2 separate regions of the Homo sapiens genome follow, and region 2 is linked to region 1. Evidence: fine-mapped expression QTL. A gene starts in region 1. The other region holds a variant in brackets. All regions are shown on one strand. Distances are between the middles of the regions.

Evidence for each region. PIP is the estimated chance that this variant, and not a neighbour inherited with it, causes the effect.
Region 2: its variant is fine-mapped to the expression of PCP4L1 in fibroblasts (GTEx, PIP 0.93).

Annotation. Positions count from the first base shown.
Region 1 is chr1:161,256,538-161,260,797 of GRCh38, reverse strand. It overlaps PCP4L1 (Purkinje cell protein 4 like 1), which reads right to left and starts at 2,053. Exons shown (of 3, transcript NM_001102566.2): 1 at 1,815-2,053. The coding sequence starts at 1,823. RefSeq lists an enhancer at 1,185-1,685.
Region 2 is chr1:161,301,992-161,306,508 of GRCh38, reverse strand. MPZ (myelin protein zero) reads left to right here. Exons shown (of 6, transcript NM_000530.8): 4 at 45-180; 5 at 341-401; 6 at 532-1,774. The coding sequence ends at 633. Among named protein-coding and RNA genes, the nearest start is that of MPZ, 5.7 kb to the left of the region's middle. The variant C/G (reference allele first, on the strand shown) is at 1,851.

The DNA.
Region 1 (4,260 bases):
CCATCCGTGGATCCTTCTCTCATCATTCTACTGAGCCCCTGATGAAGGCTAACCAAATTCAGCTGCTGAGTCAGGAGGGAGCGGACTTGGCTTTCTCCTCAAACACCGAATTGTTTCCTTTGCTACAAAACAGGCTTCTCATTCCACCAAATACCACTCTAAATGCCAGCCCCTGTAGTGTGTCCTACAAAGGGGCTGTGCACTTACCCCAGAAAACACAGGCTAACTGCAAATCCTCACGTTGGCATAGCCTTCAGATCACAAACTCCCAGGGGATGGCTTGGATTACAACTTTCAGATTTAGAAATGCTCGGGGTGGGAGGAGTAGTATGAACCCTAGACCTCAGTGAAAAGGGGCAAAGAAAACCTCTCTTCCCACATTAGAGGTGAAAGAGGAGGTTGATGCGTTTTTTTCTTTTCTTTCTGAAAGATTGCCATCATCAGAGTCACAACCAGCTGAGGGACTGGAAACCACTTTGGTTCATCTGCAGCCCCCAGACTAGCCGAATTTTCCAGGATAAAATTAGTGAACACGGCAACCAAGACAACACAGCAGTTGGCACTAATTAGCTCCCTGGGTGACAACTTTTGGTAGGAGTCATAGAGATCTTCATTTTTAGTATCTAAACTGGAACCCAGGCTCCAGGGTCCTATTCCTTCAGTAATCTAATGTCTTTGGGAATTCTTCTGTTAAATTTCTGTAATACTCTAATGGGAGAGGAAGAAAAAAGAAACAGAAAGATAATAGCTAATATAGATTGAGTGCCAGGTCCTGTTTCAAGTATTTGGCATATATTATCTCATTTAATTATTACAACAACCAGTATTATCCCCATTTTACAGACAAAAAATGAAACAAAGGTTTTGTACTTTGCCTAAGGCTACATCACAGGTAAGTAGCTGGCCTACATACATATCTGACATATAGCAGAGGAGTTGGATTTAACACAACGATGTGGGTACTAGGAAAGAGGTTGCAGAGGGCAAGCTTGTGATGCCACTAACCAGACTGACTTCACTTGGAAAGGCTGATCCTTGTTTCTGGAGATGAGACTGTGCCTACAAATAGACAATAGGAGACGTCTTTCCAAAGTCTCTGCTTTGACCCCCCACTCCCCCACCCCATGAACAGTGTTCTTTGAAAACAGTAAATCAGTTAATGGCCTGGGTCTGGCCACGGTGAACACCACAGAGCCTGCCGGAAGACCTAGTTTGTAACAAGCACTGCAGAGGGAGGTCTATTCTTGAAGGGGAAATCTCCCCAGCAACTGGCAGGGGCTTCTAAATACCGGAACACGTCCCTCCAACGTTCCTGACTGAATGAGTGGAGGGCAGGATGCCACCTTTCTAAAAGGGGCACAGTGGCCCTCCCCGGGGGCCAGGGATGGAGTTCTTGTTAGATGCTACAGAAGGAATGTGAGTGCCTTACATCCCTAGGAGAGAGAGGACAGAAGCGAAGTGAGGGGGGTAAGGGGAGCCAGAATAATCTCGGGCAGTAAGACAGATGCAGGGGGCAGTATCCAGAGGGGATGACCTACCACCTGAGAGCTCAGCATCCCCGCTTCCGGACTCTACAGCCGATTCCAATTACCCCCAAAAGCGCCGTCCACAGTAGGGAGACTGAAAGCACCCCGTCTTCCAATCGTTTCCCAGCGCCCCGAGGTGGGAGCTTTCCTAGGAGGGCAGTGGGGCGCCCCTGGAGGGTTCTTCGCGGCTCCGGTCTGCCTCGCTCTCCCTCGCCTCCCTGGGATCCCGAGCCGCAGCACCCTCCCCGCCGCAGCCCTGCCGACAGCGCCGGGGGCCGCACCGCTCACCTCGCTCATCTCCGCAGCCGGACAGGGCGCGCGAGGCGCTGCACGCACAGGTGAGGCGAGTGGCCCTCGGGGCTCCGCGGGCGACAGCTGAAAGTTGCCGGGCTCTGCGGCAGGGGTTACAGCTGACCAGGAGAGGAGAGTTAGTGCGGAGAGCCGCTGCTCTGGTGCTGGCACCCGGGATTCTCGGAGCCCAGCTCCGGCCAGGCGACCCCCTGCGACCCGTCCTGTCAGAGCCGCTCAGCTCGCCGCCTCCGGCCCCACCTTTTATACTCAGCTCGGTACCCGCCTCCAGCCCGACCAATAGAAGCTCCTCCTACCGTAGAATGACAGCCTCTTGCATCCAATGCTGGCAGGTTTAGAGGTCTGCTGCATTTCCAAACTAGGGTAAGACAGAGAGCGGGAAGGAGGGGGAGACCATCGGGGGATGCGGGGACGGAAAATGAAGTAGGGGGAGCAAAGAAAGAGAGGGAGAAAGGAGATGTACACGAAGAAGGCAAGGTGGGGAGTGGAATGGAAGGAGTGTGTGAGTCTGAGAAAGAGAAGGCCTGGAAAGAAATCAAGAGGGTACACGGAAAACAGGAAACAGTGAATGAAAGGGGTAAAGCCAAGAGATGTTGCAGATTAAGATTTCCTAGTAGAATAGCACCCTGGAGGTCGGGCGCGGTGGCTCAAGCCTGTAATTCCAGCACTTTGGGAGGCCGAGGCGGGCAGATCACAAGGTCAGGAGATCGAGACCATCCTGGCTAACACGGTGAAACCCAGTCTCTACTAAAAATACAAAAAATTAGCCAAGCGTGGTGGCAGGCGACTGTAATCCCAGCTACTCGGGAGATTGAGGCAGGAGAATGGCGTGAACCCGGGAGGTGGAGCTTGCAGTGAGCCGAGATCGCGCCACTGCACTCCAGCCTGGGTGACAGAGAAAGACTCCGTCTCAAAAAAAAAAAAAAAAAAAAGAACAGAACCCTGGACCAGAGAATAGCACAAGAGAGGGAGGAAGGCTGGGGGAAGAGAGAGAGAGACAGAATGAGAGAGAGACTGGAGCAAATGGACAGCTTTCTTTGGCAAAGAACAGGGAAATTGTGAAGTGCCTGTTTGATGTGGAAGATCATAGATCTCAGGAGTTGGAAGACATTTTAGGATTCATCAAATCCTACTGTGTCTGGAGTTGGTTCCTTCTGGTGGGTTCTTGGTCTCGCTGACTTCCAGAATGAAGCTGGGAATTTTTGCAGTGAGTGTTACAGCTCTTAAAGGTGGCACGGACACAAAGAGTGAGTCAGTGAGCGAGTGAGCAGCAGCAAGATGTATTGTGAAGAGCGAAAGAACAAAGCTTCCACAGCATGGAAGGGGACCCGAGCACGTTGCTGCTGCTGGCTGGGGTGGCCAGCTTTTATTTCCTGGGGTCACCGCCCATGTCCTGCTGTTTGGTCCATTTTACAGAGTGCTGATTGGTTCATTTTACAAACCTCTAGCTAGCTACAGAGTGCTGATTGGTGCGTTTTACAATCCTAGCTACAGAGTGCTAATTGGCACATTTTACAATCCTCTTGTAAGACAGAAAAGTTCTCCAAGTCCCCACCTGACCCAGAAGTCCAGCTGGCTTCACCTCTCAATCTCCCCTCTAAACAGGACACCCCAGCTGCTGTTGGAAATTGGGCGATGACCACTCTAGCTACTTCCTGCTGGATGGGGGCGAAGGGGCCCTGCAGTGGTAGTATCCTCCAGAGGGAAACTCTCTAGGCCAGCCAAAGGGTCAGTGGGTTGGTCCAGGGGTCCTCGGTAGAAGTTGTTAGTTGAGCTCGTTTGGGGTTCCATTTGTAAGACCATCTGTAGCTTGATGGCATTGATCCTGGAGGAAACAAATTTGACAAAGAGGTTAAAAATACAAGGCCCAAAGGCGAGTAATAGCAAGATGGCTGTCACAGGACCTAGAAAGGGGAGAAGCCATGTCGCCTAACTCTGAAGGTTGGTCTAAGGGTTTGAAAGGCTTTGTCTGATTTCAGAAGCCTCTTCCCATAAACACCGGGCGGAGTCTCGTACTATCCCTGACTGGTTAGTGTAAAAGCAACATTCTTCCCCTAAGAAGGTGAAAGTCCTCCTTTCTCAGCAGTGAGGAGGTCTAGGCCTCAGCGGTTTTGGAGAGTCACTGCTGCCAAAGAGTCTATTTGGGATTGTAGAGTAAGGATAGATTTTGTTACTTCTTGTAAACTGTCTGAGAAATCCTTCAAGTGTGTGTGGTAGCAGGATAATGAAGTAGATAAACCTGCTATTCTGGTTCCTGTAGCAGTGGCCATTCCTAACCCTATAAGTAGGGGTATTAGTTGTATGGCCCTGTGCTGACAGGAGCTTTGTGGGGCACTGATAGGGTCTGATTTCCACAAGATTAGAAGTTAGGATAATACATGTTATACTGTTAACTTTCAGCAAACTTTACTTTTGTTGAAAACCT
Region 2 (4,517 bases), 46 kb before region 1:
CAGGGCCCTGCTCATTCTCCCACTTCTTTTCCCACCCCTCCTAGTGCCAACTAGGTACGGGGTCGTTCTGGGAGCTGTGATCGGGGGTGTCCTCGGGGTGGTGCTGTTGCTGCTGCTGCTTTTCTACGTGGTTCGGTACTGCTGGCTACGCAGGCAGGCGGCCCTGCAGAGGAGGCTCAGGTAAGGGGCGGAGCCTAGCTCCCCTCCCCCTCTCCCCACTATCCCCCATCTGGGCGGAGACTACTCCAGTGGGTGGGAGGGCCAAGGGGAAGAGGAAGCTGTGTCCGCGGTGCAAGGGGTTCCGGCGAGGCCAAACGTACAGCAGTCTCTCTTCTTGCAGTGCTATGGAGAAGGGGAAATTGCACAAGCCAGGAAAGGACGCGTCGAAGCGCGGGCGGCAGGTTAGCGGGACTTGGGGCCTAGACAAGATGGGAAGGAGAACCCTGGGAGCCGCCGGGCAGCAGTGAGGGGTGGGATGGGAACAGTCAAGCCCCAGTCGCTCGGTGACTGATGTGTGCGCCCCTCCCCCAGACGCCAGTGCTGTATGCAATGCTGGACCACAGCAGAAGCACCAAAGCTGTCAGTGAGAAGAAGGCCAAGGGGCTGGGGGAGTCTCGCAAGGATAAGAAATAGCGGTTAGCGGGCCGGGCGGGGGATCGGGGGTTAGGGGTGGAGTCCGCCAAAGGCCCAAAGGTGATGGTCATCGAGATGGAGCTACGAAAGGATGAGCAGAGCCCGGAGCTCCGGCCTGCTGTCAAGTCCCCCAGCAGAACCAGCCTCAAAAACGCCCTCAAGAACATGATGGGCCTGAACTCGGACAAGTGATCGCCACCCCCCCACCCCAGGCCCTGCCAGAGCAGGGGGACCTAGGCTCCTCTTACCCCCGTCTAGGTGCTTTCCCTCTTTGCTCCCCCGCCCTGCCCTGCCCTCACCTCCCTTTGAGATGTAAGTTTCATTCCAGAATTCATTCCCCAGGCAATTGTATTCTCCCCCACCTTCACCCCTGGCTTTCTGGGAGCCCAGGAGCTAATCCTACCCCTCACCTGCCCCGGGGGCTGTGTGTTTGGTGCCTGTCCACCTGAGCACTGAGAAGAAAGGGACTTTGATACCCTCTGCCTCAAGTCCAGGCCACCTGGCATTCCCATCTCCTGCATCCCCCAGCCTGTCCCCCTGGCTGTTTCCTCTCCCGTCCCTCCCTCCCCTCTACCAGGTGGCCCAGCTCCATACTCTGTCCCCCCAGCTAATACCCAGAGCACCCAGATCAGACTCTCCTTCAGGGTTTATTTAGGTTATTATTTTTTATTTTTTAATCCATTCTTTGTTTGTTTACCTGTGCTCATCCTCTGCCCTTACACCCATGACTGAGGACCAATGACGTCATGTGGCTTTTGCAATTCACGCCCCCCTTAAGTCCTTAATGAAGAGCCAGCCCAAGTAGAGGGGCCCCTGATCCTCACACTTCAGTATAGCATTGGTTCCCCCTGACCACTTTGGAGCACTGTTCTGGGACTCCAGGTCTTGAGGAGAGAGACAGAGAGAGAGAATGGATCCTCATAGGTCAGGGAGTGGGGGAGGGGGCAAATGAGCCTTAAGAAATGGTTTTTAAACAACCAAACAAAAAGCAGGAAAAACAAATGGGAAATGGGGGGGCGGGGGGGAGGAAGAGGCTGCACTGCAGCCACAGGGGATTCTTAGGATTTTTCTACATTCTGTATATTTCTTCTCAAACCTCCAAATGTCCTTAAATGTTTAATAAACACTGACATTTCCAGAAGCTGCTGCCTTGTCTAGAATTTCCTAGTCCTCCTGGGAATAATTCCTGCCCCTTATCCCATCCCCAACCTTCCATA[C/G]TTGGCTTCAGTTGTTTAGTTTGTTTTTTTGGGGTGGGCTTATATAGTATACTAGAAAGAACTCTGAAATAGCCTCACAAGACACATTCATACCTTCAGCAAATAATCAGTGAGATTATACTACGTTGTAAACTCTGCCAGTCTCTGCTTTTACATGAGTTAAAACGCAGAATCTGTCTTCACCAAGATCTGAATTTTAAAACATCCCAGCCACTCTCTAGCTGTGTGATCCCCAGGACAGTTACCTGACTTTGGTAAGCTTGTTTATGTACTTGTAAACAACTGAGATAATGATATCTGCCCTGCTTAATTCCTAGGGATTTTATAATAATCAAATGAGATCCTGTGTATGGAAAACTTTGTAAACTGTAAGTTGATATACAACTAAATATTAAGGTGTTCAATATTTGTTTCTAGTGCTTGCCTAAGGTAGTACACTTTACAAATTAGCACAAATCCCATTCACCTCTCTAAACAATCACTGCTTTGTTTTGTTGGTACATGATTTTACTTCTGTTTACCTATTAATAGGTATACTATTAATACCTCATTAGCTAGTTTGTTGGTATGTTGATTTAGGTATACCATTAATATCCTGGTATCCTGAACTGATTGTGGAAAAACATATACGTATCATTTTCCCCTGGGGATTACTGATGGCACAAAAAAACCCAAAGTGCCCACAAGTAATTTCTTCCCCTTGTTAAGAAGCTAAAGATATGATTAACACCAGCTTTACCAAAACCCAGAGTGCTTCCATTTGTTTGAGGGGTGTCTTCAATGTCTTTTAAAAAAAATCAATCTGCCTTCATTTAAATATAAAAGCTAATAGAGTATATATAGCCTTTTGTTGGGGGGAAGTGGGAGAGGAAACTTAGTCACAACCCAGTAATAAAGTTGGGAATATCTTAAGCCCAAGATTCCTTATTAGTTAAGATGCTAAACTGTCCATTATTCATTAGATAGTTGCAGCTGGGTTCCCTGCTTAAACTTCCCAGACTGTCAGGAGAGTCAAATGAGGTTGGATGTGGTGGCTCATGCCTGTAATGCCAGCACTTTGGGAGGCCGAGGTGGGCAGATCACTTCAGGCTAGGAGGTTGAGGCCAGCCTGACCAACATGGCTAAACACTGTCTCCACTAAAAATACAAAAATTAGCCGAGCATGGTGGTGAACGCCTTCTAACCCTGGCTACTTGGGCAGCTGGGGCACGAGAATTGCTTGAACCGCGGAGGCGGAGGTTGCAGTGAGCCGAGATCATGCCGCTGCACTCTAGCCTGGGCAACACAGCGAGACTATGTCTCATAAAAATAAAAAAGAAAGAGAGAGAGAGAGAGTCAAATGAAATATTATGCTACTTATGAGATAGAGTATAGCTCAAAGCTTCTCATTTAATTACACTTTTGTTCTAAAATTTATCAGCCACCTGCATTTTGCTAGCTCAGTTTATCCAATTATTTTAATATTTCTTATTCCATCAAGAATCCTGGTACCCTGGGACAACATTTTGCAATCTCTTGCATTAGGCATTTTCACAAGCATTGCACACTTAATGTGGGTTTTTCCAGGACTGTGCCCATTTTCCACAATCCCCAACAAAGTAAGCCACATCCCCCCTTTCTTTCCTCTGCAGTAAAGCATTAAATAAAGTCTAGAATAATGATTCAGATAAAGGGAAATGACATTGTTATATGGGAAACTTTGAATCCCATCTAATTATTACTTTGAAATAAATCGTTCACAATCCTCAGTGCGTTGTTAATAATAGCAATAATTTTGCCCAGGCATGTGAGCACTTTGAGAATAATTTAAAGCCTTTTTCAGTGTTAACCATAAAAAGAAAAAGATTATAACCCAATTTATGAATACGCAGACAAAGAGTCTAAATAAAATATTTGCAAAAGAGAATTCCACAATGAGTTAATAAAATAATAAATTATGACCATGAAGAATTTACTCTGGGAATGAAAGAATAGTTCAGTATCAGGAAATTTACTAACAGGATGTGTTATATCATCAGGGAAAAAACGTAATTCTATCAAGAGGAGATGTAAAAAAAAAAAAGCAATTGTTTTTTAGTAGCTATTCCTACAAAACATTCTAAGTAAAATAGTAATAGAAATAACCATAATGGACACTATTTTTCAAAAATCATTTAAAAAGCATATTAAATATGAAATATTGCAGCCATTGTCATTAAAACAAAAGACAGTACTTACATTATCGCTAAAAATATTCAGTATTATATTTGAAGAATTTAGCTAGTGTAATTAACCAAAAACAAGGAACAATCTGTATACATAGATGAGAAACTTATCTTTATTTGCAGATAATATGATTGTGTTTCTAGGAAATCCATAAGATGCAACTAGACATGTATTGAACTAAGAAGTCAATCTGGTAGTGTGATTATAAAATAAATTAATTTCAGTCTATAACTAGAAATCTAGCTAGAAATGAAAATAATAGGGAAGCCCACTGATGACAGTAAAAAGAACAGAAACAGAAATTAACAAGAAAGGTACATAACCTGTATGAAAAAAATTATAAGATTTATTAAGTAACAATATGTGAAAGTTGTCAGAATCAAGATGGAGACACTCGTGTTAAAAAAGAAAAACAGGGCCAAGCGCAGTGGCTCACGCCTGTAATCCCAGCACTTTGGGAGC